Linked DNA regions of Homo sapiens. The protein of the gene in region 2 purifies or fractionates together with the protein of the main gene of each other region. This does not show direct contact. Each region holds a gene or a part of one and is shown on either strand. Other genes may lie near its edges. The genes, in order: PRR4 and KCNIP4.

The links.
Region 1: the proteins of KCNIP4 (region 2) and PRR4 purify together in Homo sapiens (affinity purification with mass spectrometry; 2 studies listed by BioGRID and IntAct, with this or other methods). This does not show direct contact.

What each region holds. Positions count from the first base shown.
Region 1 is NC_000012.12:10,842,437-10,858,398, forward strand, and holds PRR4 (proline-rich protein 4 isoform 2 precursor), read right to left. Parts: upstream 7,040-15,962; 5' UTR 7,002-7,039; coding exon 6,938-7,001; intron 5,972-6,937; coding exon 5,936-5,971; intron 4,932-5,935; coding exon 4,627-4,931; coding exon of another isoform or gene 4,609-4,626; intron 3,515-4,608; coding exon of another isoform or gene 3,508-3,514; 3' UTR 3,413-3,507; downstream 1-3,412.
Region 2 is NC_000004.12:21,941,711-21,957,512, forward strand, and holds the start of KCNIP4 (Kv channel-interacting protein 4), read right to left. Parts: upstream 7,063-15,802; 5' UTR 6,922-7,062; coding exon 6,861-6,921; intron 1-6,860.

The DNA.
Region 1 (15,962 bases), on a different chromosome or scaffold from region 2:
AACACAAAAATTAGGCCTTCAGTTATAATACTACAGGTCCCTGAGGCTGTGTTTATAGTTTTTTCCTGCTTACCTTCATGAATTTTTTATGTGGTTATTGTAAGTTTCAGTTCTAAAATGTCCATTCAGTTCTTTCATATATTTTAATTTTTTGGCTGAGATAATTTTTAAATTTGTTTCATATATGTTTGTAAGCAATATACTGGAAGCATTTTTATGATGACTGCTTTAAAATATTTTCTGAATAATTCCAACATCTTTGTCATTTTTGTTCTGGAATCTTCTAATTACCTTTTACATTCAAGTTGAGATTTTTCCTGGTTCTTTGTATACCAAATGATTTCTAAATGAACCAGGACATTTTAGGCATTATGAGACTCTAGAACTTATTTACCTTTTCTGTCTTAGCTAGCTTCCTCAGACACTACTCCAGCAAGGCAAGGGAGTGAGGGAGGGACACTGCATTACTGCCAGGTGATGATAGAAATAAAGGTTTCCTCTCAATCTCTGTTGACACCTAGGCAGGCGGAGGTTCCTCATTACTGCTGGCTGGAGGGTGGATTCTGGGTCACCACTGGGCCTCCACTGATAGCCTGTCTCGGAGGAAGAAGTGACTTGTTACTGTTTCCCACATGGCCTCCACAAGCACCACCTGGTATGGAAAGGAGGGTGCTTCTTCATTGCTGCTTTTAGAGTAGATCCAGCTCCCCATTTGCTCTCCAGTCATATCAAGGTGTGGAAGGAGAGTGAGGGGCTTATTACCACAAGTTGGGGATGAAAGTTCCAACTTCTGCTATTCTGAGATACTATTCTGGAGGAGGGTTGGGACACCTTGTCACAGCCTGGCTGGTATGAAGATCTAAAGATCTAAGCTCTTCACTTGAGGTAATAGTGTTTTCTGTGGTACTTGACTACAGTAGAGTGGTTATTGTCGAAATGTTTTCTGCCTTGGTAGACTATTTCCTTGACCTTTGCCTAAAATAATAGGCTTTTGTTGGGAAATTCTCATATGTGCCTGTTAGTATTTCTATGTTGATGGCATTTTCAGCTAAAAGTCTGCAAATTATAAAGCAGAAAAGAAAACTTAGAGGATTCATCACTATACAATTTATTAAGTCCCTACCACATCTGCCTTGGTCTCTCCAGGTCTGAGTTTTCATATATTTTATATATAATGTTCAGGGTTTATAGTTTTTCTTAGTAGAAGGAATAGGGCAAAATACATTTACTCCATTTTTCTGGAAGCAGAAATTGGTTTACTTTCTGTAAGAAAGCAGTTGGTGAATTTCTGTCTAAATTCTCTGCCTTTTCAAGAGGAACTGGGCTTTACTTCTCAGATAACAACTGAGCAACGATAGACCTACAGGTGGCATTACTCTCTGTATAGGTAGAGAATAGGCTGAATATTAAATGTTAAGGAGCAGAATCATTGGAATTTAAATGAGGAAGGAGACTTAGTTTTTATTCACGTTAACCAGCCACCTGATGACATGCAACAGTGCGTTTGTTCATCAACATACCTTTTAGATGGCCTTTCTGCTTCTTTTTTGAATGGCTTTAATGCTAAAGAAAGCAAGTGTTTATCAAATAATCTATTTTTTAGATAATTCATTATTAGAAGTTAATTCATTATTAGAAAGATAATTTATTATTAGAAGGTAATTCATTATTAGAAAGAACAAAACGAGTCTTTTTTAATAAAAGAATAAATAAATTTAAATGTATTGAACTTTTATTGTTGTATGTCATGTAGGGTAATTTTGTATACATGTTGCATTTTACAAGACTTAAATCGTGTAATTTTATATACATCTTGTAGGGTAATTTTATATACATTTTATAAGGTAATTTTATATATATTATGCATTTAATTCTTGTAAGTAGCCCTCTGCCTTAGCCAGTTCGAGCTGCTATTAACAAAATATCTTATCTTGGGTAATTTATAAATAATATAAATGGATTTGTCATAGCTCTGGAGGCTGGAAAGTTGAAGATTGAGATGGTACCAGATTTGGGGTTGAGTGAGAGCCCATTCCAAACAGACAATTTCTCCTGGCTTCTCTCTCATGAGGCAGAAGTATGAAAGAAACATGAACATTGAGTCCCTACATGTCAAAAGAGATGGAACAGCTCAGCAGCCTTTGGGAGCTTCTTTTTGTAGGGAAATTGATCCCATTCATGAAAGCAGAGTCCACACGACTTAGTCACTTCCCCCAAAGACTCCATCTCTTAATACTATTGCATAGGGAATTAAGTTTCAACATAAATTTATTTTGTAGAGACATAAACATTCAAACTATAGCATTCTGTCCCTGGTCATCCCCCGAAATATATGGTCTTCTCACATACTAAGTACATTTATTTCATCTCCCAAATCCCAAAGTCTTAACTCATTCCAGCATCCACTTTAAAATCTAAATCCAAAGTCTTATCTAAATATCATCAAAATCAGATATGGTGTGGCCAATTTTCTAATATTGAACCATCTTTAACATCCTCATCCTCTTTCAACGTGGTTTATTATTCTTTTAGCATACTGTTCGTTTGTTTATGTACTATTGAATAGTTTCCCTAACAGAGTATCCTTGCTGTCCTATATATTTTGTTTAATGAAACTCAGAATGAATTCAGAAACTTGTTGTTTCCTGTACTTAAAAAATCTAAAAAAGAATTATGTGCTTTTTAATGATAAAGATTAGATATTAAAATTTTCTGTATTCAGCGACATTGGAGGTGATAATGAGAGGTAGCTGGAGACAGTTACATATCAAATTCTTTTGCTTCTTAGGGTTATTTTCTATTCAACTTTGCCTCAGCAACTTGAGTTAAATTTGGTAGTCTATATTATCTGACAATAATACTGATATTGCTGGAATTTTTACAATCAGAACAGAGTTTTACTCAAATTTCTTGCCCTTTAAAGTACATTATGCTGCACCCTTTATGAAATCCACTCAAGTTTTTAAAAAGAATGGTGAACGACTTAGGGAGGAAGAGAGCTGAGCAATGAAAAAAGAGGAGAAAAGAGCATAGTGAGTTTTATAGAGAAGAGATCTAGAACTACATTTATGCCCCTAGAAACCAGGATTAATAGTTTTGGAAATTTTAAGAATTCCCCAGCACTTGCAACTCCCTCTCATTTGTTATATATTCCTTGTTTTCCTAGAGTTACAAGAATATCAATGAAAGATGTAAAAATAATTTTAAGAATTTGCATTTGTGCTATGCAATCTAGGACAGAAGGGGAACAATGGAACTCTTTCTCCTTGGCAGCTGGCTTTATTAAGATAAAGGAGGAGGGAAGCCTGCTGGAAGCATCAATGAGCAAGAGTCCCAGATATTCTTAGATTGTATTAATGGCCCTCAAATTCTAGACTCAGAAACACCCACAAAGAGAAGCAACAATCAGAAATTGCATGCTATTAATATTTTATTGGTATACTGAAGAAAGAGTTATGACCACATTATTTCAATGTCATGGCTTTCTGAAGGAAGTTATCTTCTTATTTATTTTCTGAAACAAAAAAAAAAACCAAGGAAATTTATACACAACATACAACATGGCAAAACTTATCTAATTCCTTGATGATATTACTGAAGTAAATTATTGCTTTCAAGATTAAGAAAACAGATTTTTTTATGGTGTTTATGTTTTGGTTACTGTTCAAAACATTCAAGGTTATATTTATGAAAATGACTGCAACTTGAACCTGTAGTAGTGAAAAACTAATACAAGCCTACATATCAATTAACAGTGGTTGACTGAGGAAATCATGGTACAGTCACACAAGAGAATAGTATACAATTGTAACAACAAAAGAAAAATGTACAAATAAATCACCAAGAAGATCTATAGGTCTCCGTGAAATGATAAAGTTGTCTAAGACATGTATTATTTGAAATAAGCAAATACAGATCTGCATATAAAATAATATGTCATTTGTGGGAAAAATAATGACGTATGCTTATATACATATAAATATTTCCAGGAGGATGTTCAAAAAATTAAGGGTGGTGACTTTTGGTGAAGGGTGTGGGTAAGTAGGATAAGGCGTCACTTTAAGATTTAGCTTCATACCATTCTGTTCAGTTAGATTTTTTTTTCCTTGAGCATGTACTAATTTCAAAATAAGTATTTTAAAAATTAAATAAGATATAAGAGCATCAAGTTCAAGTATCATTTAGCAGGGACACTGGACCTGAGAGGCTAGTGTGAGGCAGGACTGAGCAAAGAGTCCTCTGGCGGAAACCTGAGAGAAACCTGAGATGGAGAGTCCTTGGGTTTGAGAAGGCAGACTCAAAGACAGGAGGCAGAGCACCAAAGGGAGAGCACACCCCACTTCCTCATTACCAACTCATTTTAATGAGACAAGTCATCTTAAGAAAAAAGTTGGGGAGGTCAGTATTTCAAAAGATAAGAATTCTTTGAACCACTTGTTAAAAATACAAGGACTTGCAACCTTATCCAAGAATATCTGAATACAAATCTTTAGAAATGGGGTCCAGGATTATGTAATTTCAACATATTTCCAATTGATTTGTGAACACGATAAAGTTTGGGAATGGTAGCAGTTTGGGCATTTAATGGAGAATGAACTGGAATCATACCTGCCACTGAATTCTAGATTACCAGAGTGGTTGCTCCTGGGGATGTCTTGCTGGTCTGTCCCTCTGGAAGAATGATGATGCTTCCTGCAGGCTGACAGAAGGAAATCGGGGTAGAGAGAGTTGACGGTGTCCTCGTCGGGGTGGTCGTTGCTGATTTTGAAAAGGAGGTGGGGGAGGATGGCGGTGATGGCCTCCTGGTTTTGGTGGTCTCTGCTGAGGACCATCATCTTGGTTACCACTATCACCAGGGGGTCTAGGTAGGAGTCCTTCAGGAGGAGGTCTCTGGGGTCCCTGATCTGGTCTCTGACTTGAGTCCTCTACATCTGTGTGAGTAATTAATGGACAAGAATGCATGAGCTCAGTGAAGAAAAACTCTCCTCTCTTTATACTTCTCTCACCTTACCACACAGCCCTGTTCTCCCCAAACCTGCTGCTTGACTGTCAACTTCTTTTGTGCCCACTGTTTTTTTTTTCTTTTTATGCAGCTCTCAACTTAATCCATGTAAGAGTGATATGGAAAGTCTCATTTATTTGCTCCTGTGACAAGTATGTTTCCTTAAATGAAAAGAGGGGTTCTTGCATATCTTAGAGTTGCCAGAGGATGTCTCCAAGGACAGAAAAAAAAAAAAAAGCAAAAGCATTATAGCTTTCAGTTATGTTACTGGTTATTTTTTATTTTTATTTTTTGGTTGCTGTAATGACTTACAAACTGTGACTCCATCTCTGGGCACCTAAGCCCTATGTGGAAACTAGAGCTGATTTCCCAGGCTCCTGGAACCAAGTAGAGAAATACTAAGAGACAGAAGAGAAAGACAATGTGAAAGCCTGCACATGATCACTAAACAGCTGTGGCAACTATTTATCATCTGTAGTGACACAGCTGAGTGGGTCAACACAGAGAAAAGACATTCATGCAGTGATTTTTTTGTTTTGTTTTGTGTTACTCCCTGAAGCCACATAACCGTGCGGGGGAACACTGGGGGAAGAAAGAAGCAGTTAAGGATGGAGGAGTCAGAATGAGAACACTTCTCATTTGTTCATCATCTCTCAGCAGTCATTCCAGCCTGGGAAAAAAGCCTGCCCACTCCTATTGTCCTCAAAGCCAGGCATCTCTGTATTCAAGTTGGTGGCCTGGCTCATGGTCCCCAGAATCAAAGATGGGTAAGAATTGCCTATATATTTAGGGGCACTAATATTAATCAATGCCTGACCCCTCTTACCACCTCCTCCCAAAAAAATGATGAGAAGAAGACACTGAAGGAAACTAAAAAGAAATTCTAGTGGAAAAAGAAAGAAAAGAATTGGATTGAGGATCATTGGGATTTACCTGGTATGGTGAAAGTAAAGTCTTCATAGTTCACATCTAGGAAAAGAAGCACAGGATGAAGTGAACATTACCTCATAAATCTTTCAGGGCTCATAGTGGTCTATAGGGAAAGGGGTCTTCTGGCCACACCCTGTGCATCCCCTAAGTTACCTCATCAACCATGTTCTGTGAAGCTGCTGGAAGGGGAGGAAGATGTTAGGGGAGGCAGGATTGTTACTATCGCTGAGCATCAACCACGAATTCAATAGAAGAGTCCCTTTTTGTCATCCTTAGGATCCCTCAAACCCTAATGCTAATTTAGGCACACTTCTCTGGGTATTTTCATGTCATATTTTAGATCTTTACCTTCTTCCTTCTTTAAATATTTTGATCATATTCACAAGCTTGCCCAAGAGGAGCAACCAGGAGTAAATATTTGGATATAATCTTACACATGCTGCCTGCAACATATTGAAATTTTAAATGTGATTGGAAGAAAAATGGGAATTTGGGGACCTGATATTTCTATACCACTATGTAGAAAGACACAAATGTATTATCCAGTCCTCTATGTCTGACAGTACTCTGATGTTTGTTTATCTCTTTCATTGATTCTGCATCCCCTGTACAGCAAGGACACCATCATCGCTGTCCACTGAGATTACTGTAGCATCTTCATAGCTGGACTTCCCTGGATCAGTCTTGCATTCTCCACTGCATCCTTCACAGCACAGCCAGGTCTTTCTAAAAATACAAATCTTACTTTGTCATTCCTCTAATTGAAATTCTCTATTGGGTTCCAAGTGTATATCAAATAAAGTATAAGGCCTTGGCATGGAATGAGGGCACAACAGATGTCATCCTTGGAATGAGAGCTCCAAAGCCCTACCCTTCTTCTCAACCTCCTTCCTCCCCTCCTGCTCTTCCGCTGCAGTGGTGTAGGGTGAACCCCTGAGGCCCTAGAAGAGTCATGGCCCCTCATCCCACTCCCCATCTCCTTTTTTAAAAAAATAATTTTTTTACCATTATCTGTGCTCTGAGCTGAGCTCAGAGCCAGAAGGACCACTGAGAGCAGGACCAGCAGCATCTTGAAGGAGGCTCTGGAGTTGCTCCCAACTCTGCGTTGAGAGAAACATGGCAGCTCCCTTTATAAACATGAGCAGAACAATGGCACCTTTGAGCTCCATACTGGGTGGACCTCACCACCTGAAAGATTAGGTTTTGCTTTCCTCTCATAAAGTTGAATGCGTCTCTTATTACTTTTTGGGATTTTAGCCCAGCAGGATGTGGTGGTAGGATGTGGTTAGGTACAAACTGTGACTTGAGCATAGTTTCTGAAGAAACAGTATCCAAGCAATCAGCACAAATACTACAATTGAAGTTTGGTCATCATTTGATTTTCAATTGGGTTAGACAGTTAGTCTTTCCCCTTCATTGGTTGTCTGTGTGCACACGTGCTTACGTTTGTATATGTTTGTCAGCAGTGATCTTATAGCCAGAAGTGAAAATGATTAATATCTCTAGCTATTAGTGTAGCATAAATTCCATTTTTATAGCATATATACCTATATGGATGATATGTAGCTTAATTTCATAATAATATAGAGATCATTTCTGTTTAATGTTGAGTTGTGTGAGGACAACACACACTTGGGCACACGTGGATGACAGAAGTTTTACCCTCAGGCTACTCTGGCCCAAAGAGATTAAGATTCTCCTAATCTAGCATTAACCAGAGATACTTTATTGTTGTAGAACACAGGTATTAAAACATTCTATCTTTATTAATACCCTGGAGGTTAGTAAGGCAAAATTGGCCACAGAAAGCACCATTAGATTTCTGCATCAGAACAGTGTGAATACACAGTTCCTTGAACAAGCCATGCTATTTTATGTCCCTAAGACTTCTTCCATGATCTTTCTCTTTTCTAGAATGTTCTATATGATTCAGTTTAGGTCTTACTTCTTGTACCAAATATTTTAATCACACTGGTTATTGAGTGGACACAATAATACAATCTAATTAGATAGTATGATAGCCTGTTGAAAGCCTCAAGTATTACATTGATTTTCTATTTTTTAATTAGTTTCCATTCTATTTGCTTCTCAGATTGCCTTTACCAAAGATTATTTTCTCTGCAATATTCTTATACTCATTCTTCTTCACTCTTGTGCTGAACCTTACTTGTTGATATGTTATATTGTGAATCAATCCTCCCTATGTCTATGTTTTATATCTTACTGCTTTCTTCATGCGTTCTGGGAGAAATCTTTATTTGATTTTCTAAACAAGGTTCTGTACTTCTCTTTGCTTGCTTTCTTCTTTTTTGTTTTTAAAATTTGGCACCAAGGTTTTGTGTTTCTGAAAAGTTTGGTAGGGTCCTGAGTTGGTAGCTTAATCTTCACCTGCTGATTTTTCTGTCCTATCTAGTAGTTTTCTGCTTATATTTTCATGGAACCCCTAGATCAATCAGTATCACCAGCTGCCACTTTTCATTACAGGCATTGTATAGGTCTCGTATTATTGTTACATTTTTGTACAGGGCTGGTGATAATTTGAGGATAGCTTGGTTGGAAGTATGACAGGGTCGGGGGAATGTGACTGGAAATCTTAAAGACAGGCCTCTTGACCATTGTGGATAAGTGGATCCTGTGCTGTGCAGATGAAGGTCTGGTCTGGCAATTCTGAAGGGTTGGAGGTAATATTACAGGAAGATTTTCTAATCAATGGTGTTTGTTATGGATAACTTTACTTTGGCAAAGTGACCAAAAAATAAATATTTTCTCTGGCATAATTATGGACATATTTTGAAGGTGAAATATATTATGAGTTAGCAATTCTTCTCTATGTGGGAAGCAGAAGAGTTCTAGCTGTGCTTTAGGGTTTTATGGGTGAGAGAGAGTAGTTGTTTGGGCCTACAGACCCAGCTGTGTTACTAGGATTGCTGCCTCTGATTTCACCAGACACTGTTTAACATGGGAAGTGGAGATAAGTAGTTCTGCCTAGGTGGCTTATGGTAGACCATCAGGTAGGAAAGGAAGGTCAGCGAGAAGGAGCAGAGGGGCGTGCCATGCAGACATGATTCACTGTGTGGGTGGCTGAGGAAACTGCAGTCCTGGTGGAAGGCAGGCTTCTCCTTGGCTGGTGAGTGCAGGAAGACAACAGGTGATGCCTGCAAATATCACTCAGCTCAGACCCTTACCCTGACATTCTCCAGTGTAAGCAATGAGAGAAAGAGATTAATGTATCAGGAAATAATAAACATCAGCTATGATCTCACCACACACAACCACAACAGAGGTGACGGAGGAGCTGAAACAGACACTGTCAGTGAGTGAGGGTGGGGTCAAATCGAGAAGCAGGACTGCAGCAGGAGCTTAGGCACTTGTAGGTGAGTGGACACTCTCAGCAATCCACTTGCCTTTTACAACAGATGAAAACTTAACATACCCCTAATATAATTCTTGATTTCTACTTCCTAAAACCTGCTCTCCTTCATACTAATTTGTTATGGCTACCCTAAAAAAATGCCCCACAAGTGGCTTAAACAACAGAAATTTACTTTCTCATAGTTCTGGAGCTTGAAGTACAAGATTAAGGTGTCAACAGGTTTGGTGTCTTCTGAGGCCCTGTCTCCTTCACTTCTAGATGGCCGGTTCTTGCTGTATCTTCACATGGGGTTTTATCTGTAGACGTGCATCCCTGGTACCCCTCTGTGGTCTGTGCTAATGTTCTTTTCTTATGAGGACAGGTGTCAGATGGGATTAGCACCAACCCTATCAGCTTCATTTTAACCTAATCACCTCTTTAAAGGCCATGCTGCAAATAGAGTCACATTCAGTGGTATCGGGGGTAAGGGATTCAACATGAGAGTTTGGAGGGAACACAATTTAGCTGATAACACCTCACAATCTTTTCTCAGTTCATGACATTTGTTTCACTCAACCATTCAAAAACATAAGTGTCACTCTTGATTGTTTAGTCTCCTCCGTGTACTGCCCTTAGCAAATCCAATTGGTTCTACCTTCAAAAGATATCCCATATATGATCAGTTTCATAATCTCTATCAGAAGGTCCTGAGTCAAGCCATGATTCTCCCTCCTGGAGGACTTTCAACAGTCTCCAGCTGATCTTGGTGACATTCCTGCCCCTCACCACATCCCAAGCAGTTCTCCTTACAACAGCCAGAGTGATCTTTTAAAAATAGAATTTAGAACATCAGCAAGATGGCTGACTAGAGTTCCCTGGCACTCATTTCCCCACAAAAAGAAATCAAGAAAACAAACAATTTTATGTCAGCCAGTGTGATTTAAAAAGTATGCTGGAGACCACCAGGGGAACAGAAACACCTCTGTGAAGTACAGAAACTCAATATAGCATCCTGCCTCTGACATACTCTCTCTTCAGTCAAGGTTGGCTCAGGGTCATCAGTAACTCCATTCTACAGGAAAAAGTAAGCTGTAGTTCCCCAGTGGTCCACATTGCCATAAAAAATGTCAACAATCTTTGCCCCACTGTTCTCACTGGCACAAAAACCAGTCTGGAGAGCAGTTGGGATTTCCAAACTGCATTGCCTTACATAGTAAGAGACCACCTTGAGCACCCTCTGCCCCTGCAATGTAAGGTGCTATGGCTCAGTGCCATCTCCAAACTGAACCTACATAGAGAGTGTGTCTTGCTTTGAGCATCAGTAGCACCTGGCTCTCTATCACTTGAGGCCCCACCATCATTCCAACACATTCATACAGGTATCTGCAGCACCATGACCCTAGCTTCCCAGAGCCTAGCCAGATAAACTAATCAAGACCCCGGCATCCGAACCCATGTGGTGCACCACCAATCCAGGGAAGAAGTGAACAGCAGGGAAGCCACCCATCTGCCTACTAGCCACGACACCCACATGCACCCACACCTCACAACCAGCTAGTCTGCTGAGCCTGTGCATGCTGGTGCCCAGCCTGAAAACTGGTCCTGTGGTGGGCCCACCCCCAGGACTACAGCCTGCTTGGGCCACAACAACTCTGAGTTTGTGCATGGTCTAATAATTGGTCCTGCAGTGACCCTGCCTCCTCAGATGGGACTCTGCAGAGATGGATGGCCCTGCTACACCTGTGAGCACTGACAGCAACCCGCCCACCCAGCAGGAAGACAGCAGTGCATGTAAGTGCACACACCTTGAGAAAAGGCTCTTCCCACTGCTGCTGGTGGCACAGTTGCTGCTGTCACCACCGGGGGCTGCAGCAGTGAAATGCCAGTTGGACCCAGCAAAGTGGCAGGATCCTCAGCATTCTAGCATATGCAGTGTTCTGCACCTCAGGCACTGGAAAGGCTGTGAACCAGACATAGGGAGCCAAAGCACATGCTTTCCAGAACCAGAGAGCTGCCTCCCTGTGGCTGCTGACACAGACAGCAATGTCACCCCCGCAACACAGCAGCAGAGATGCTGCACACTTGCATGCAACCTGGGGACAGGCCCTCTCCATCTGCTGCTGAGTCTGCTGATGCAGCTGGGGGCCAGAGCATGTGCCACTGGCAGTGACCTGACTTCCACCAGCAGCAGAGCCACTGTGAACTTGCACGTACCCTGAGGACTGGCTTATGCTGCTGCCAGAAGCCAAAGTGTGCTCCACATTGCCAGAGAGCTGCCTGCTAGTGGCTGCTGCCACTGACAATAACCACACCCTGCCCTAGCAGCACAGCTGCAGCAAATTTGCATGTGCCTCGAGGACAGGCTTTCTTCAGGTATTGCTCCTGCTATTGGGAGATCCAAGGATTACCCCATCCAACTTACCACAGCCAACATCCATGTACATAACTAGGGGGACTGAGGACAGGCCTGCCAAGCCTGGTTCCATCATCCCAGTGCCCAGGCACACTACCCAGGGGTGTGGCAATCATCCTGCTTTGTCCACCACCACTGGCATTTGCACATTCCTTTAGGAGGACTGAGAATGGGCCCAACCAGCCTGACAGTAGCACTGTAGCCAGAAACAATATGCATGCAACATCTGAAGGTCTGGAGACTGGCCCCCAGCCCATCACAACCACCTCTAACACCAGAGCTTGCAACTTGAGAATCTGAGGGTTGTCCAACCAAGCTACAGAAATTGCCCATGGCAAGCACATTCCCAGAGGCCTAAAGGCCCACCCACCCTTTCAGCCTACCATTGCAACTGCTAGTACCCAGGTAAGCTACTTAAAGCCCCCAGAATTGTTCTGCTTAAAGCTGCTAAAACTGGTACAAACATATGTTGCCTAGGTGCCAAATATAGGCACTCTCAGCCCACTGTTACCCCTACTGGGGCCCAAGAACTGGCCCACCTAAAATCTCTGTCCCCAGGAAAACCTCACTACAGCCTCCAATCACAACTACAGCCTAAGCCACTGAGGAAGTCACAGACACCACTTATGCTGTTAATAGCTGAAGGAATAATATAAGACCACCTTACTGTACACACACAGAATCAAAGCCAAAGTGTCCTACTGAATCAACACCACAGATACATCTTCAGAAAGAAAAGTTAATGTTTTGGATCTATGTCACTGCCCAAATCTCATGTTGAATTATAATCTCCAATGTTGGGGGAGGGGCTTCATTGGAGGTAATTGGATCATGGGGGTGGATCCTTCATGAATGGTTTAGCACCATCCCCTGCGTACTATTCTTATGACAATGAGTGAGTTCTCATGAGATTTGCTTGTTTAAAAGTGTGTGTCACCTCCCCCCCACCCAGTCCTTCTCCTGCTATGTAAGATGCCTGCTCCTGCTTTGCCATTTGCCATGAGCAAAAGCTCCCTGAGGCCTCCCCAGAAGCAGATGTCACTATGCTTCCTGTACAACCTATGAAACTGTGAGCCAATTAAACCTCTTTTCTTCATAAATTACCCACTCTCAGGTACTTCTTTATAGCAATGTGAGAATGAACTGATACAGAAAATTGGTACCGAAGAGTAGGGCATTGCTATAAAGATACTAAAAATGTGGAAGCGATTTTGGAGATGGGTAATGAGCAGAGGTTAGAAGAGTTTGGAGGACTCAGAAGACAGGAAGATAAGGGAAAATTTGGAACTTCCTAAAAACTTGTAAATTGTGACCAAAATGCTAATACTGATATGGAAAATGAAGTCTGGGCTGAGGAGATCTCAGATAAAAATAAGGAACTTATTGGGAACAACTGGAGCAGTCACTTTTGTTATGCTTTAGCACAGAGCCTGGGTGCATTGTTCCCCTCCTTTAGGGACTTGTGGAACTTTGAACTTGTGAGTGATGATTTAGGGTATCTGGTGGAAGAAATTTCTAAGCAGCAAAGTGTTCAAAATATGACCTGGCTGCTTCTAACAACCTAAGCTCATATGCCTAAGCAAAGAAATGAGCTAAAACTCAAATTTGTATTAAAAAGGGAAGCAGAGTGTAAAAGTTTGGAAAACTTGCAGCCTGGCCATGTGGTAGAAAAAAAATTCCCATTTTCTAGAGAAGAATTTACCCTAGCTGCAGAAATTTGCATGAGTAAAGAATAACCAAATGTTAACAGCCAAGACAATGGGAGAAAGACATTGAAGGCATTTCAGAGACTTTCGTAGCCACACCCACATCACAGGCCTGGAGTCCTAGGAGGGCAGAATGGTTTCCTGGTCCAGGCGCAGGGCCCCACTGACCTGCACAGCCTCCAAACACTGTTTCCTGCATCCCAGCTGCTCCAGCTCCAGCTGTGGCTCAAAGGGGTCCAGCTGCAACTTGGGCTGCTGCTTCAGAGGATGCCAGCCATAAGCTTTGGCAGCTTCCATGTGGTGTTAAGTCTGTGAGTGTGCAGAGTGCAAGAGTTGAGGTTTGGGAGCCTCTCTTTTGATTTCAGAGGATCTACAGAAAAGCCTAAATGTCCAGGCAGAAGCCTGCTGCAGAGGCAGTGCCCTCACAGAGAACCTCTACTAGGGCAGTGCAAAGGGAAAATGTGGAGTTGGAACCCCTACACAGAGTCCCCACTGGGGCACTGCCTAGTGGAGCTGTGAGAAGAGAGCTGTCATCATGCAGACCCCAGAATGACAGATCCTCTGGCAGCTTGCACCATGCACCTGGAAAAGCTGCAGGCACTCAATGTCAGCCCTTGAGAGAAGCTGTGGGAAATGAACCCTGCAAAGCTACAGGGGTGGAACTGAAAAGGCCTTGGGAACCCACCCCTTCCATCAGTATGCCTGGTTGTGAAACATAGAAAGTCAAATGAGGTTATTTTGCAGCTTTAAGATTTAATGACTTCCCTGCTGGTTTCAGATTTGCATGGGGTCTGTAGCCCCTTTCTTTTTACAGCTTTCTCTTTTTTGGAACAGGAGTGTTTACCCAATGCTTGTACTCCCCTTGTATCTTGGAAGTAACTGTTTTTTGAATTTACAGGCTCATAGGTGAAAGAGACTAGCCTTGTCTGAGATCAGCCTTTGGACTTTCGACTTTTGAGCTAATGCTGAAATGATTTAAGACTTTGGGGGACTCTTGGGAAGGCATGATTGTATTTTGAAATGTGAGAAGGACATGAGATTTGGGAGTAGTGATGGGCTGAATGACATGGTTTGGATCTGTGTCCCCACCCAAATCTCATGTTGAATTGTAATCCCCAGTGTTGGGGAAGACTGGCATGTTGGGAGGTGACTGGATCATGAGGGCAGATTCTTCATAACTGGTTTAGTACTATTCTCTCACTGCTGTTCTCATGATGGTGAGTAAGTTCTCATGAGATCTTGTTGTTTAAAAGTGTGTTGCATCTCGCCCCCACTTGGTCCTGATCCTGCCATGTAAGACTCCTGCTCCAGCTTTGCCTTTTGCCACAAGTAAAAGCTCCTTAAGGTTTCCCCAGAAGCATATGCTTCTATGCTTCCTGTACAGCCTGCGGAACCATGAGCCAATTAAACCTTTTTTTGAAAAATAAATTACTCACTCTCAGGTATTTCTTTATAGCAATGTGAGAATGGACTGATACAAAAATCTTCCCCTATGAAAGCCAATTTAAAAAACAGAAGAAGCAACTATTTCACCAGATGCGCAGACATCAATGTAAGGACACAGGAAACATGAAAAAGCAAGAAAATATGACACCTCCAAATCAACACAATACTCCTCCAGCAGTAGATTCCAATGAAAAAGAAATTTATGTAATGTTGGGGAAAATATTTAAAAAATGATACTAATGGAGCTCAGTGAGATAGAAGAGAACACAGGTAAAAAATAGAAAGAAACCAGAAAACCATTTCAGGATATTAAAGAGAAATTCAACAATGAAATGGATATCATAAAAAAGAATCAAACAGAAACGCTGGAGATAAATAAATCAATAAATGAAAGAAAAATACATCTGAAAGCTTCAAAAATAGAATAGGTCAGTGAGAAGAAAGAATATCAGAACTTGAAAACAAATATTTTAAATAACCCAGTCAGACAAAAAAAGAGGGATAAAATGTGAAAAAGATGAACAAATCCTACATGACATATGGGATGCCATAAAGCAACCAAATTTTTGAATTTGGGTTTTTCCCAAAGGCAAAATGAAAGGCAAAAACATAAAAAACCTATATAATGAAATAATAGAAGAAAACCTCTCAAGTCTAGCAAGAGAGTTAAACACCTAGATACAGGAAGCTTAGATAGATACAACCCAAAAATATTTTCTTCATGTCACATTATACTCAAACTGTCAAAAGTCAAAGAGAAAAACACTATAGAAGTGGCAGAGCAATATGGTGGAATAGAAGGCTCCACCAATCATCCCACCCACAGGAACACCAAATTTAACAACTGCCTACATAATCAAAGCACTTCCATAAGAACCAAAAATCAGGTGATCACTCAAAGTACCTGCTTTTAACTTCATATTACTGAAAGAGGTACTGAAGAGGGTAGGAAAGACAGTCTTGAATTGCCATCGCCACCCTTGTCTTAACCCAGCAGCAACTACATAGAATGGAGAATCTGTAGACTTGGGGAGGGAAAGTGTGGTGATTTTGAAACTTCGCATTGAAATCAGTGCTGCCTTGTGACAATGGAAGGCAAAACCGGGGTGAACT
Region 2 (15,802 bases):
ATATCCAAAGGGTATTTAAACTGACAATCTATTTCCAATGAGAGAGCCACTCAACCACACTGGCTGTGTTCGTTTAGGAAGAAAAATCAGCCTTAACATGAGCATGAAGGCCAAATGCTCAATATGGAAAATTCTATATTTATATCCATGTTCAAATTATTCCTTATATTGTCAGAGTGTGTGAAGAGCTTTTATGTTTAAATACTGACAGTCACCCCTTTTTCAGGTTTTCTAATGCTACGTGCATGTGTGCGCATATAGCACAGCCTGTAGTGAAAAGACTGGGCAAGAAGAGGAGATACAGCCACAGCAATGACAGCAAAGGAGCTGAACTTCTGCTTGTCTCAGCCTTGACACACTTTTCACTTCCCACTTACTTCCCTCTCAATACAGCCTGATTTTTCACTGTGAAATCTGATATAAAAGGAAATGCACCTGAGGAAATGGGTGTATATACACTGAATGACATCTCCATGCCTTTTTAAATTTTCCCATTCCTTTCCACATCCACTGCTGTAATGCAAGGATCTATCATCTGATGAGAATAATGGTGGTGGATGTGGTGGTGTAGGCATTCACTCACTGAGGGGAAATTTACAAAGGACCATTTGTGGGGTTAGGGGCCAGGAGATGTGAGGCCCCTCAGACTACTGATGTTGGAGGTGATCATTGATCTGGAAGGGAGTAAGAATGAGGGAATGTCATAGTAACAACACCCAAAGATGACATTGATGACTGCCCTAAATACACAAAAACACTGGGCATCTATTAAGCTCTTTTTCAGAAACACTGTACACTCTGATAGTCATGGTGCTATAGATGCAAGAACATTCACAGTTCAAAGGAGCATTATCTTGATGTCATGTACTGTGCTCATAAACTCAGTCCACTGAATGGAAAGACATGGAGCCAAAAGTCACTTTCAGCCAATGGCTTAACATGCAATCAAATGTGAATTGTAACTTTGGTCTTTGGTGGGTCTACCATGGGACAACGTGATTTAATTCAATCAATATGTTTAAATATCTACTAGTTTTTTGTTTTGTTTTGTTATGTTTTGTTTTTGAGACAGAGTCTCACTCTGTTGCCCAGGCAGGAGTGCAATGGTGCGATCTAGGCTCACTGCAACCTCTGCCTCCTGGGTTCAAGCGATTCTCCCTGCCTCAGCCTCCCAAGTAGCTGGGATTACAGGTGTCTGCCACCACGCCCAGCTAATTTTTGTATTTCTAGTAGAGAACGGGTTTCATCATGTTGGCCAGGCTGGTCTCAAACTCCTGACCTCAGGCGATCTGCCAGCCTCGGCCTCCCAAAGTGCTGAGATTACAAGTGTGAGCCACCATTCCTGGTCTAAATGTCTACTAGTTTGTGAAGCATTGTAGAAGTGCTTACTAGAGGTACAAAAATTAGTAATTCTTGCATGGTACTACTTGCCATCAAAAAGTCAACAGAACATCTGCAAATGAGACAAATTATGTCCAGTGAATTCTGCCTTGTCATTCAGATCTATATCAACAATAAAAGAAAAACAACTTATGAAAATTCAAAGAATAATTATTTGGGGAGGAGTCAGGGAGAAATCAGTAAGCCCGCAAGAGAAGGACACTACATTTCAGATGTGTCTTGATGGATATACAGATTTTCACCAGGCAATGTGAGGGCAGGAAGTTAATTCTAAGCAGTGGGTAAAACAGGAGATATAGCTGGTTATGGTCCCAGCTACTCAGGAGGCTGAGGCAGGAGGATTGCTTGAGGCCAGGAGTTCGAGGCTGCAGTGACCCATAATGGCACCACTGCACTCCAGCCTGGGCAACAGAGTGAGACTCTGATTCAAAAGAAAAGAAAGAAAGAAAAAAGGAGATATGTTTGGAGACCAGGGAACAGTTCAGTTTAGCCAGATCAAGGTGTAGACCCAGCTGCGTCATGATTTTCGTAGGAGCCTTGAAAATCAAGCTAAGGAATTTGTATTTTTGATTCTATAAGTAATGGAGGGGGGCATTAAAAGATTTTGTGCAGGAGAATCTATGACTCAAGTTAGGTTTCAGTAAATTTAGTTGGTTTTGAGTGGGGAGAAGCAGTTAGTGCAAATAGGATGTAACCCTCATGGCCTAGAAAGGATGCTGAGAACATAATCTTGGTGGTAGAAATGGAAATTGAAGGAAGAGACAGATATAAAATACAGAAAGAACCAACAAGTCTTGGTGACTTATTCATCATGATGAGAATACCATAGAGAAGGAGACTCTTGCTTTTTTTTTTTTTTAACAACATGCCTCAAAAAATGTTGCCACGATAATTGTTTTCAGAAGATAGAGCATGTCTTTTTAGACATACTGACTTTAAGGTGCTGGTAAAACTTTCTTATGAGTCTGACGAGCAGAAGAGGAATGGAGCAGACTATACACTCAAGAGATAACTCCCCATCAAAATAAGAATCAAAGCCACACTTTGATTAGGAAGAGAGTATAGAGGGAGAAGATAATTAAAAGACAACCATGTGAAAGGCTGCACAAAATGGGCAAAAAGAGGAAATAAGTGTCATAAAAGGAGATCTGGCTGGGCGCGGTAGCTCACGCCTGTAATCCTAGCACTTTGGGAGGCCGAGGCAGGAGGATCACTTGAGGTCAGGAGTTCAAAACCAGCCTGACCAACGTGGTGAAACGCCATCTCTACTAAAAATACAAAAAGAAAAAAAAAATTAGTCGGGCATGGTGGCGGGTGCACCCGTGATCCTGGCTACTCGGGAGGCTGAGGCAGGAGAAATGCTTGAACCCAAGAGGCAGAGATTGCAGCGAGCCAAGGTCACGCCACTGCACTCCACCCTGGGCAACAGAATGAGACTCCGTCTCAAAAAAAAAAAAAAAAAAAAAAGAGAGATCTGAGAGAAATCAGAGAAAGGAGAATAATTCAGTGCAAGTGGGAAAGGCTTCATTCATTCAATATCTGTTGTTGAGCAAATATTACAAGTCAGACTTCATGCTCAATACTGGGGATAAAGTGGTGGACAGGACAGAATACTTCTGCTCTCACAGAGCTCACAGTCTTCCAACACATGTTGGTAAACAGCATGAAACATCCCAGTGAGTTCAGGACGACACGAATTGAGAAAAGTCCCTCAGGACCTTTAACCAAATGAATACTTTTGGAATGAAATGGGTGCTTCAATGCCCAAGGGTAAATTAATTTATAATAATGGGTGCAGTTATATAATTTTGAAAGATTTTTCAGACTTGCAAAGGATCCTTGAACAAACAAAATACTCATCTCCCCACAACCCCCTCCCTGCCTCACACGTTAATCTACTTGAAATAGTCGCTAAGAAGAGAGGCTATTAAGTAAAAAAACACATTCTGTTATGTATTATTGAAAAGCAATATTATTCACATGTTCTGGAAAAAGTGAGAACACGAAAAATAAATAAAAGGACAAAAAATAGTAAGAAGGGCTTAATAATTTAAGCCCAGAAATATATCTTCAAAACAATCAACCACTACCTGGCCTACAATTCTCCAGAAATCTTGCACACAGATTTTATATTGCATGGCTCATTAATTTCCAAACCATCCACAGCTTTATTTTATGAGAGGGCATAAGCTTCAGGCCTGGGGAGAGAGGGTGGCTGAATTTCAACACTTTGTCCTATCATTTGTTTAGTACACCTCTTACATTTATATGACATAAAGAAAATAAAATAATGATTGTATGATGAAAAGCTTTTCATGGATTCAGAATAAATGGATTTTTCAATATTACCCTTGTGGAATTACTAATTTGAGTTTGCCTTATTTTTAAAACACATGAAACTTAAGCCAAAGCCACGATACATCCATCAAATGGCAATTCAAAATTGAAGACATTTTTTTACTCTACTATTGAAACATACATTTTCCTCATTTTTAGTTGTAGATTACATCACATAACATCTGCCATCTCTAAGTTAGATGGCACAAATTAAGGACACCAATGAATAATTTTGTAGTTTTTTTTTTCCTCTGACCTTGTTTCTGATTCTCTTTCAAACATAGTTGAATTATCATCTCCCTCAGTCTCTCCACTGTTAGCAGGATTACGTTCTGATTTTATAGCAGGAGTGCAAAATATGGGATTAGACAATGAAATGAAAAATGTATTTTGGTCAGGCTTTGGGTTTAACATGGAAGCTGGCAGGGCAAAAGTGAGCACTCTAATTTGTAAGAAACCTTCTCTACTTGTATGTACTTATGCACAACTCACCCATTTTCTGTCCTCTCTGGCATTAACAATGTCAATTACAGTGATTTACAGGTGGTGTTCATCAGTTAGCATACTAGATGCGTTTACTTGTTGAGAAGAGAGTACGGAACGAACTTTTTAAACTAAATTATTATAAAGTTTCAGAATTGCAACTCGACTCTGTTCTGTCATTTCCAACATTTCCTCTCTACTTTCCATTCATGTAGTTTCATCCTTTGCCTTTCAGCAAACCATTTTTCACAGTGTTCTATCTCTAAGTCAGGTCATAAAATACATACACGTACGCACACAGACTCACACTTCTCTAATTCTTGATTTCTCTATCATCCACCTACATTTCTCTCAGTTAGATCTTCCAGTTAAATTTTGCTTAGATTCCAGCTAAATCATCTTATAAACCTCCATTCCAGAGATATATATTCAAGGAAAAACTGTATCATAGTACAAGATAGTTTGGGAGTTATATAAATAGCCTACTTATTGGAAAGAGAACAAGAGATCGGGACTATTATTTTAAAACAAAAATGGAAGACAGAGTTTAAGCCTTTAAAAATCATCCCTTCTCATCCCAGGATTAGTAAAGACCATCCTATATCTGATCACAAGTAAGCAAAGTACTTATGCATATGTTTGGTGAAAATAGTATTACATATTTGGGGATCATTCTCTAATATTAGCTTTGAAGCAATATCAACAAGAATAAAAAAGATAATCCAAACTATTTTTTTCTTTATTCTTCTCATCATATGACAACTAACTAAAAATTTGTGAATACAATTCAAGAAACAGGTGTCAAATCAATTCTCAGCCAGAAAACTCATCACTTTGGTCTCACCTTAGCCAAGGTATAAAACAACATATTTCTGTTCTCTAAATAAACAGTGAACACATGCTGATTCTGGAGATAGCAGTAAAAGGTTTGCTTTTTTAAATGTATAGTACTCCCCAGGTGTGACTTCATCTTCATTTCCCATTTATAGTGATTATGGCCACCCATGACCCTGTGCATAGTCTAGACATGCTGATTCAATCCCCATCCGGTTGATGGAAGAACAGGTACAGTCAAAGAGCTGTGGTCACTGAGGAGCCAAGCAATGCAAGCCATCCAGATCCTGAGACGACATTCCTGCCATCTGCTCCAGCCTTGAGTTCCCTGGGCTGCCGTGTGTGAATGTGTCTCTAATAGGACAGCGCTAGCCCTCTACCCTGTTTATTCTAAAGAACTGCAAAGACAGAGACCCTACGAACTCAACTCAACACCCCAAAACTACTCAGCCCTCTACATTAAACACGCCACTCAGGAAACATTTGATCTCTTAAAGATTGTAAGCATTTCTCACAAGAGATAATCTACTTATGCTTGGCTCGTAATGAGTGGGCATCTCCAGGCATAAGTGAAAACAGAACTAAACACAGTTACAAGTCAAATGTGGGGCTTTACAGGTGATGTTCATATTATTTTTTCCAGTCCAAAAGGATTAAGACTGTTCTCTTTAAAATTTCATATTCAAGTGAGACTAGTGTCCTCCCGGTTACGATGACCTTAACTATTGGAGTGAGGAAAAGAAAGGGAGGGTGTCCATTTCCATTTCTCATGGCCATAAATTCGAATGATTGACTCAAGTTGTTGAGGTGACTCCATTTCCCTGAGTACTAAAGAAGGCAGCAAGTGGAAACACCTCTTTGCTTGCAAGTTTACAGCCCTCGAGTCCAAGTTTTTCACCCTCTAAACCCAAACTATGCTATAGCCATATGTGACCCCTTAGCTTATGTAATCAGGGAGAGGTCCAGCCCTTTATCACTCTCATGTGCCCCAAAATCACTTCCATTCTCTTTCCGGCTCCTGTAAAATACTCTGTACACATCAAAACCACCTAATAACAAATCGATGCAACCCAAGACGCTTTGTGGAAGGGCATCGTCTCCTATTTCTCTATGGATCCCACCAAACAGCAAAACATTTCTCCCTGCTTTCGCAGAACGCACGTTTCTCTGAAAGCCAAGCTCCTAACACAGTGCCCGATACCTTAACAAGGCTGTACTGTATATAAATTATTTGCAAGTGTCACTGAGGACCATTTTCTCTGAACACACTAAACTGAAGCTAGCCATAAAACAAGCCATACGCTCCTGCTTTAGAATCTGACATGGGCAAGATGCCGCCAGTATATTACCAGGGGACAAAAATACAGTTGTAATGAAGAAACGTGTGGGGGCATGAAGGAAAAGTGGAAGGCGAGGATCAATACTATTTCAGCTCATTAATCCCCAGGTGTTAGGGGAAGGAAGCGTGCGGTCTGGAGTCATCTGGCAGATGCATAAACAACCTCGGAAATTTTCAGAGAAGGCAAAAGTACGCACAGGATCGCAGGGGACCCTGCCACCGGCGAGTTTCAAACACACTTCAAACATCTTTTCTTCCCCGACCTGGATCTTGCATGCACCCCCCTCTCCTTTGCACCCCATTCCTGCCGCTCCCACCTCCCCTTCCCAGTCCCGCCAGGTGACTGTGTCTCATGCAGCGAAGGCAACAAGCGTCCCCAGCCGAGGAAGGGAAGGGGCAGCCGTCTTGGCTCGCGAGGGAAGGAGGGCGGAAGCGGGCGCCCGCTCGCAAGCTTATTGCATCCTACCGCCTGTAGAGCTGGCCTCCTCCAGCTGAGCCGAAATGCTTTCCACCCTCCTCACATTCATGTCTAGGGACGCAGGGTGCAGAAGCGAGACTCGAGAGTCCACCGGCCAGGGGCGTCTGTCCACGGGTCTGCACGGGAGCGCACCGCCGCTCGGCCCGGGGGCGTCCGTGGCGCTGGGAGCGAGAGCTTCGGCGGCGGCTGCGGGCAGGGCGCGCGGAGCGGGCTGCAGGTGCGGGCGGAGGCCGGCGGGGGGCGCCGGGGGCGCTGCGCGGCCCTTGGCGGCGGGGGCGCGCGGGGTGGCGGGGGAGGCCGAGGCGCCGGCAGCTTCGCGCCGGCGGCTGGAAGCGGGCGGGCTGCACGGGCGGCTCGAGTGCGGGGACCCCAGCCCCTCGCCCTCGTGAGCGCCGCCCCTGCCACCTGCTGCCAAGTCACCGGACTGGGGATGCGGGGGGCGGGGTGCGGGGAGAGGAAAGCGCCGCGGGTGGCACGGTGCCTCTGGCGACAGAGTAGATGGACCCGAAAGAGACCCGAGGTGACTTCGGGCTGGGCAGGACACCCCCGGGAGTTGCCAGCGGCTCTCAGCGGGCGCCTCTAGGACCCCTTGTCACTGCGAGCAGCGCCTGCTCTGGGGAGGGGCTCGAAGGCGCCGCGCCTTCTCAACGCGCCGCTGCGTCCCCCAGGGGCTCCAACTTGGACAGCTAGACTGGAAATACTGCTGCACAAAGTTAGGCTGAGTTCGAAGGACACCAGAGAGGAAGCGCAAGGAGATGCCCTTCTCCGGAGCCGGGCAGAGCGCCAGAACTCCTAGACGGGAAACTTTCCCCCATTGAAGCTAGAACCGGTCATGCGACTCGGCTAAGTGTGGGGAAACACTGGCTCTAGACTCCAGGTGAACATCGCAGGGCCGAGGTGCAGAATACCACCTTGGAGAGAGGGGGTGGCATAGACTGGTGGCATTTTGGAGAAGCATCCATGTGGGGGGTTTCATTTGAGATCTCCCAGGCAGGTCAACCAGGAGGTATCGCTCACCACCCGCAAGGTCATTTGCCCTTCTAAAGCACAGTAAGGCCGGGAATAGTTGGGAAGGTAAAGAGAAACCAATAGACCACTTGTGGCCATGGTTACTGTTTGAGAAGTCAAAATTAAAATGCAGATTTCTGTGTCCCCAAGAGTCAAGTGCATGAAGCCTCTCTTTTCAGAAGAAAGGTCAAGTTGACCCGTTCTCCAGGCAAACTGAATTAAAATTCCCTCTCACTCTCAGCTGCAAGGTCAGTTGGCCATGACTTGGGTGGAAGCCATTTCTAAGTGTTTGTGAAACTATTTGCCTTCCCTATGGCTGCTGGATTATTTATACACACTGTCACCAAGTGAAATCTTCCCCCTTTCTCCAAGTAGGTCTCAATTGACACCTTATTGCCCTTCTCCCCACCCCCAAACGCACGAGCGATTTACTTAGTCCTTTGAGCCCTTGTAGCATGTATTTGTATATTTCTTGAGAGCCTTTTACTCTTTTAGTTCATTGTTAAGGAGACAGATGCTGACACCCCATTGTCTGGGTTCAAATCCTAGTTCCACTACTTCATAATCCTGTGGCCTGGTACAAATATCAGCTATAACTGGTACCTACATTATTGTTTTGTTGTGAGGATTTAAGAAAATCAATAGATGCAAAGGGCTTAGAGCCGTGACTGGCATGTAGCAATCACTGTATAAAGACAGGCAACCCTGATTCTTGAAGTTGAGAACAATGTTATATTGACAAAGCAATTAGAAAAGTTCCTTGCACATAGTTGGTCTTCACTAAACATTTGTTTTTTCATTATTCAGCAAACATCTAGTAACTACTGTGTACAAGACACAATTATAGGCACTGGGATACCACAGTGAATACAACAAAGACCCTCAGTTATTGGCTGACTATCTAGAAGGCAGAGAGACTGACAATAAATCAAGGAATCAGAAGTGATCTGCTAGGGAGATCACTTTTATATAGGGGGTCCATAAGGGCTTTATGAAAGAGGCAACATTTAATTGGAATCCTGATGAAAGCGAGGAGCTAGCCATGGGCATCTCAAGGGAAAAAGAACTTCCAAGCAGAGAGAAGAGCAAGAGCTAACATAAGAATAGCATGTTTGCAGGGCAGCCAGGAGGTTGACAGGGCTGAAGTACATTGAGAGAAGGAAAGGGTAACAGGAGAGAGAGTCAGAGAGGATGGGATCATGTGCAGTGTAAATGTTTATTGAATTTTGTCTGCATACTTTTACAGCCAATGCATTCTTCCCACTTGCCAGCTTCCTCATAACAAGTCTTCTCGCTGCCCATTCTATCAGATTCAATCATTCGATTCTGTCGCGTGCCACCTTCTCCCTCTTCTGCAGACTTCTCCTAGCAAACTTCCAACTTACTGACCAACTACTTCTTTCTCTTTTTCTGTAGCTAACACTCTTTCCAGAAACCACCCACAACTTTGAATCACTAATACTTGTCCAACTCCAAATTTTGTCTTCTATATGATGACTTCTAAAGCTACCTGAGCATGCTGGTTTGGATTCTGCAGCCTGGGTTGGAATTCCAGTTCCAACTGTGAACAAGCTGTATGTTTGAGGACTAATAACCTCCCTCAGTTTTCTCACTCTAAAATGAAGAAAATAATAGTGTCAGCCGGGCAAGGTGGCTCATGCCTGTAATCCCAGCACTTTGGGAGGCCGAGGTGAGCGGATCACCTGAGGTCAGGAGTTCGAGACCAGCCTGGCCAACATGGTGAAACCCCAACTCTACTAATAATACAAAAATTAGCCAGGTGTGGTGATGCATGCCTGTAATCCCAGCTACTCAAGAGGCTGAGGCAGGAGAATCACTTGAACCTGGGAGGCGGAGGTTGCAGTAAGCCGAGATCATGCCATTGCACTCCAGCCTGGGTAACAGAGCAAGACTCTGTCTCAAAAAAAAAAAGTAAAGAAAAGAATAGTGTCTACTTAACTATTGGGAAAGATTATATGAGGCAGCATATGTAAAGTGTTTAGGATGGCCCCTGGCACATAGAGTCAGTAAGAGCTGCCATCGTAATAGTTATCACCATTATCATCATCATATTTTGTCATGGTGAACTCAAAGAAGAAATGGCACCACTATATTCTACAACAGGTCTAAGCAACCTTCCCTCACAGTGTGGGAAGTAATACACAACCCCTTTCTCATCTCCAAAATATGCAGAACATTTTGTTGGACCAAACTATCTTTCAAATCTTATCCAAAGAATATCTGCCCATGGTGGCCCTACTAAACGTTTACCCCTTAACTAATTATAAAGAAGGCAACAAAATCGTGTAAAGTAGACACTGTGCTGAAGAAGTTTGTAATATATTAACATATAAATATTGTATTATATAATATAATCAATATATAATATTAATATATTAATATATTTCCAAAATATTTGTATGGGAGTTTAGCTACTACAAATCCCAAGTCCAGACCTTTTTACTCGGATTCTTAGTCATTGCCAAACATCACAGAATAATTATCTTTTTACTGCCACATTTACCGCCATTTTTGATATTTGGGACCGAAAGTCCAGGATTTCTCTGTCTTGCTTGTACCATCTCCTTATTGGCTCTTTAAGTACTTCAACTAGTTAAAGAGAAGAGCTTCATAGGCCACAGCATGCTGTGCCAGCTTCTTATTACTCCTCCGAGGCTGTAGCAACCCTAGCCCGTCTTCCCAACCTCAAGACACATGCACAAAGATTGCCACCTTCTCTGACTAACCCTAGATTACTTTCTGTATAGCACGGATGTGTATTTTTCCCTCAAGGAACCATATTCAAAATTGAGTGCAGAAATAGGAAACTCACCATGTGCCAGCCATGAATCTCAGACTTTATGAACATTATTTCATTTAATCTTTACAAAGCACTGGGAGATAAGCACTGTTATTATCTCTACTTAACTAGTGAAGAAATTAAGCCTCAGAGAAGGGAACTGGTTTGCCAGTTTTATAATAGTAATCAGTATATCTGGGCTTTGAACCCAACCGTCTGACTCAAGAGCCCCCATATTTAATTACTACAGTGTACTGTCACCCTGCACTAGAATTTCGATGCTCTAGACTCTGACATTTCCTAGTTCTGTGTCCTCCGGAAAGTCACTGATCATGTCTAAGCTTCAGTTCCTCTTCTGTAAAAAGGGGAATTTCTGCTTCACAAGGTCATTGTCAGGATCAAGTCAGGGAATGAAAGTGAAAGCTATATATAAACCATGGAATGTTGTAGAAGCATCCAGGATTACTTTTATTATTTCCTGATTTTTTATTGCTTATTACCTTTACTGCTTTGTCTTCTCTGAAAGCCCCTTACATTTTGGCACAATTCTCCCTGGCTCACCAGAACTCAGGCAGTAACAGTAAAACTTCTATTATTTCATAATTGCTGAGCACTTACACTATGCACCTATGCACTGTGTTAAAAACTCTATGTCATTGTATGAATTAATTCTAAGAAAAATCATCATATATACTTATTCTTACCCTGATTTTAAAATGAGACTGAGACTCAGAGAGGTTAAGTAGCCCAAGGACAGCCAGCTGTGAAGAGGTGCAGCTGCGATTTGAACTCACGTTCATCTGATTAAAACACTAGAGCTTTCAATTGCTTCTTGATTGTTCTTAAACTTTAACATGCATAAGAATCATCTAAACAGATTAAAAACTCCTCTGCTCCAGCCTGTGGATGGATTCACTGAGTTTGGTGGGGAGATCTTAGAATGTAATTTATTTTGTAATTAATAGACTTTTAGAGCACTTTTTGGTTTTTTTTAAACAAATTTATTAAAGTATAAATGACATACAATAAACCGCACATAAAGTGTACAATTTAATAAGATTTGACATACAGATACATTCAAGTAACTACAGCACAGTTAAGATAATGAACACATCCTCCACTCACTGAAATTTCATTGATCCCTTTTGTAATCCTTTCCTTTTGACTTTTTGGTTTTCAAAAGAAAAAATGAGCATACAGAGTTCCCATGTACCCTCTCTCCAGTAACCCCTCCTCGAGTTTTCCCTGTTGTTAACATCTGGTATTAGTGTGGTACATTTTTACAATTGAGCCAATGATACATTATTTTTAACTAAAGTCCATAGTTTAGATAGAAGGCCTAATCTTAGAGGAAGAGGTGGCCTTAGAGGAAGAGGAAAAAAAAAGAAATCACTCAGAAGAAAGGCCATGTGAGGACACAGCAGCCGTCTGCAAGCCAGGAAGAGAGCCCTCAGTGTAAATAGAACTCTACTGACACCTTGACCTTGGACTTCCAGCCTGCAGAACTGTGGGAAGGTAAACTTCTGTTGTTTAAACCGCACAGCCTGTAGTATTTTGTTGTGGTAGCCCGAGCGGACTAATACATACCCTAAGATCATACTTTGAGATATCACTACTCTACACTAGAGGCAAGAAAGTGTGGTCTGAAATCCACCAATATCTACATCACCTGTGAGTTTGTCAGGCATTCAGAATCTGGGGCCCTGCCTCAGACCTCCTTAATCACTATCATCATTTTAACAACATCCTCAGGTGGTTCCAGGTAAGCACATTAAAATGTGAGAAGGCTGGGAGTGGTAGCTCATGCCTGTAATCCCAGCACTTTGGGAGGCTGAGGCAGGAGGGCTGATTGAGCTCAGGAGTTTGAGACCGGTCTGGTCAACATAGTAAACCCCATCTCTACAAATAATTCAAAAAAATTGGCCAGGCATAGTGGCTCACACCTGTGGGTAGTGGCACCCAGCTACTCAAGAGGCTGAGAGAGGAGGATCGCCTGAGCCCAGGAGGTCGAGGCTGCAGTGAGCTACGATGGCACCACTGCCCTCCAGCCTGGGTAACAGAGTGAAAAACCCTGCCTTAAAAAAAAAAAAAAAGAAAAAAGAAAAAAAAAATGAGAAGTCCTGCTCGACAGCACACTGGGCACAGCTTTGTGTTTGTTTACTTATATACCTTAGGCTCCCTTGGAGCCATGCAGAGCTCACTGAGCAGAGGAAGAAGCTAGTGTTACAATCAGCTCACTGCACTTTACCCTAATGAGACAATCCAGCTTCATTTTTATGTCAGCCCTACTCACATGAATAGAATCACTTATTATCTCATTAGGTTTCAAGCAGCAAATATCCCTAACCTTGATCATCGGACTACACTTGCAAATTTATTTCTGATTCTTAATCTCTTGTATTATAATAATCAGGTAAAATAATCTTCTTTGAGATCCTAACATTAAAGGAAATATTAATATGCCATAATGAAACAAAAATGAGGTAAACATTTTAGAGCTGCCAAGTTAATTCCAACCTTCCTGTGGGATTTTTATATTCAGTTCCTTAACTGATCTTTACAACTCTGAAAAGTTGACAGCTCAAATTTTATAACCCCCGTTTTGCAGAAGAAGAAACTGAAGCCCATGGAGAGTAAGAGACTTATTTTCACAAGGCACGTGGGATGCACCCAGGTCACAAACCTTCATCGTCTGACATCTTTCAGCACTTGCTTCTATAAGGTTTGCCAAGTTTATAAAAGCTGGAATACTGCCAAATGAAGTGTAAGTCTCTAAGCATCAAAAGTCAGGTTTGCCTTGCAACTTTGTCTTGCAGGATAAGTCCATATTACAGATGTAAAGTTATTATTTCACTTCATTGCAATGACCCTTGACTTGTGGACTTCAGGAAATCCACTGGCTACATTCTGTACATAGCAGGAGAGGTGATTAGAGGATTCGCTTCAGAATGGAGATTTAGTTTAACCAGATAGTTCTGCAAAAACTTAAATATCATTAATGAGGTTAATGCTGAAAAGGTTTTACCTAAATTCCATATCTCTAGGTTCTATACTTGAATATGTTATAATTGGTAGATAGGTTCATTAAATTCCAAATCACTTTATGCCTTTTAATCCTGTATTTTCTTTAATTGCTCATTTTCCTGCATGAAGTCTAAAAATCAGTCCTTGAAAAGTAAGAATTTACTGGTTTGTCTGCTAATAGTTTGAATAAAACTGTTCAAAAGAGATGTTGTTATGACTAAATGAATCAATTTCTAGAATATTCTTTTTTGTTGTTGTTTTTTGAGACAGAGATTTGCTCTTGTTGCCCAGGCTGGAGTGCAATGGTGCGTTCTCTGCTCACTGCAATCTCCACCTCCCAGGTTCAAGCGATTCTCCTGCCTCAGCCTCCCAAGTAGCTGGGATTACAGGTGCCCGCTACCACACCTGGCTAATTTTTTGTGTTTTTAGTAGAGACAGGGTTTCTCCATCTTGGCCAGGCTGGTCTTGAACTCCTGACCTCAGGTGATCCACCCACCTCGGCCTTCCAAAGTGCTGGGATTATAGGAGTGAGCCACTGCACCGGGCCTAGAATATTCTTTTTAACCAAAAGTTGGACATAGCCGAAAACTATTCTAAATGACTATTTTCTTCCAATATCAAATTCAAAGACATTAAGTCTTTGGAAAAGAAAAAAGAAATAGGAGAAATACGTATTTCTGATGTGTGTGTGGCTCAAAGCACTATATTATATTGTTGATAAGGAAGTTAATTATCTTGTTATATTTAAGATTTATTCATTATATTGGTACTTTGGGGAATTAATGTTTGTTTTGTTTTAAAATTCATTAGTAAAATTAAAATTCTTTATACAAATTAGCGGTATTATGGGAAGACTGAGAACCTATTTCTTGAGAGTAAGGTAAAAAAACGAACAAAAATGCCACAGTCTGGGCCTAGAAAATTCAAAACTCGGTCTAACAGTCTGTCAGACTTGAATAGTGAAAGTGCCACATATACACATCAAAAGAAATGAAGAACTTGACACTCAAATTCAGGTGTTAGTTAACAGCCCACCAACAAATGAAGAAAATAATGGAAAAGAAAGACAGACCCTCTAAGTCACAATGCCATTAGATTTTTTAAAGTCCAGAGTCTTTTAGATAGGTGATGTGATAAAATGGTATCAAAGAGAGAAAACCCAACTATGTTAGAAGAGTGAATGCTTACAGAACAAGCACATTTGGATTTTGGGAGAGTTAGGGAACGTGCAATGAAAGATACACCCCTAATCATGGAAGCAGACTCAGTTTTAAGGACACAATCACAATCAATTCGCTGCACTTTACTCTAGTGAGACAACCTTGTTTCACTTTTGTGTCAGTTCTACTCACATGGATAGAACTGTTTATTGTCTCATAGGTTTCAAGTTGTCAATAAGAACTCAGGGATGGTGGTGGTGAGGGGAGTGGATATAAAGAAATAAGATCATAGACTACTGGATAACAAGGTCATCTGATATGAGAAGCCATTTATATTTTATTTCCTTTGTTGGTTTTTGACAACAACCTAAGAATCTTGAATCATTCATACCACATGTCAAGAAGCCAGGCACTGTGTAGGGAAGATGTTAACAGGGGAAAAGAAAGAGTCCCTTCCTTCAAGGAGCCAGCATTCTAGTGGTAGATTTGCACAGGGAAATAAGCAACTTTAGTAAGAAAAATGAATGCTTATATAGCACTCTCTATGTATTTTGTATGTGTTAACTTATCCAATATTCATGTTCCATGAGTCATATGTTAGTTTTTGCTATATAAGAAACCTCCCCCAAACATAATGGCTTAACATAATTATTGGTTTAGCTCACAATTCTGTGGTCTGCCAATGTAGGCTGTGCTCATCTGGGCTCACTCATGCATCTGTGGCCAGCTGGCAGAGATATGGTCATCTTACATGTCATGCAAGTGGTTGGAGTAATGGGTACAACTGGACCATGTCTCTGTCACCATCCAGATGACTAGCCCGTACTTCTTCATTTGATGGTAGCTGCAGAGTTCCCAAGAGCAGCAAGAGGGAGTAGGTGCCATTGTACAGCATTTTGCAAGCCTCTGCCTGGGACACATTTGTTACTGTCCCATTG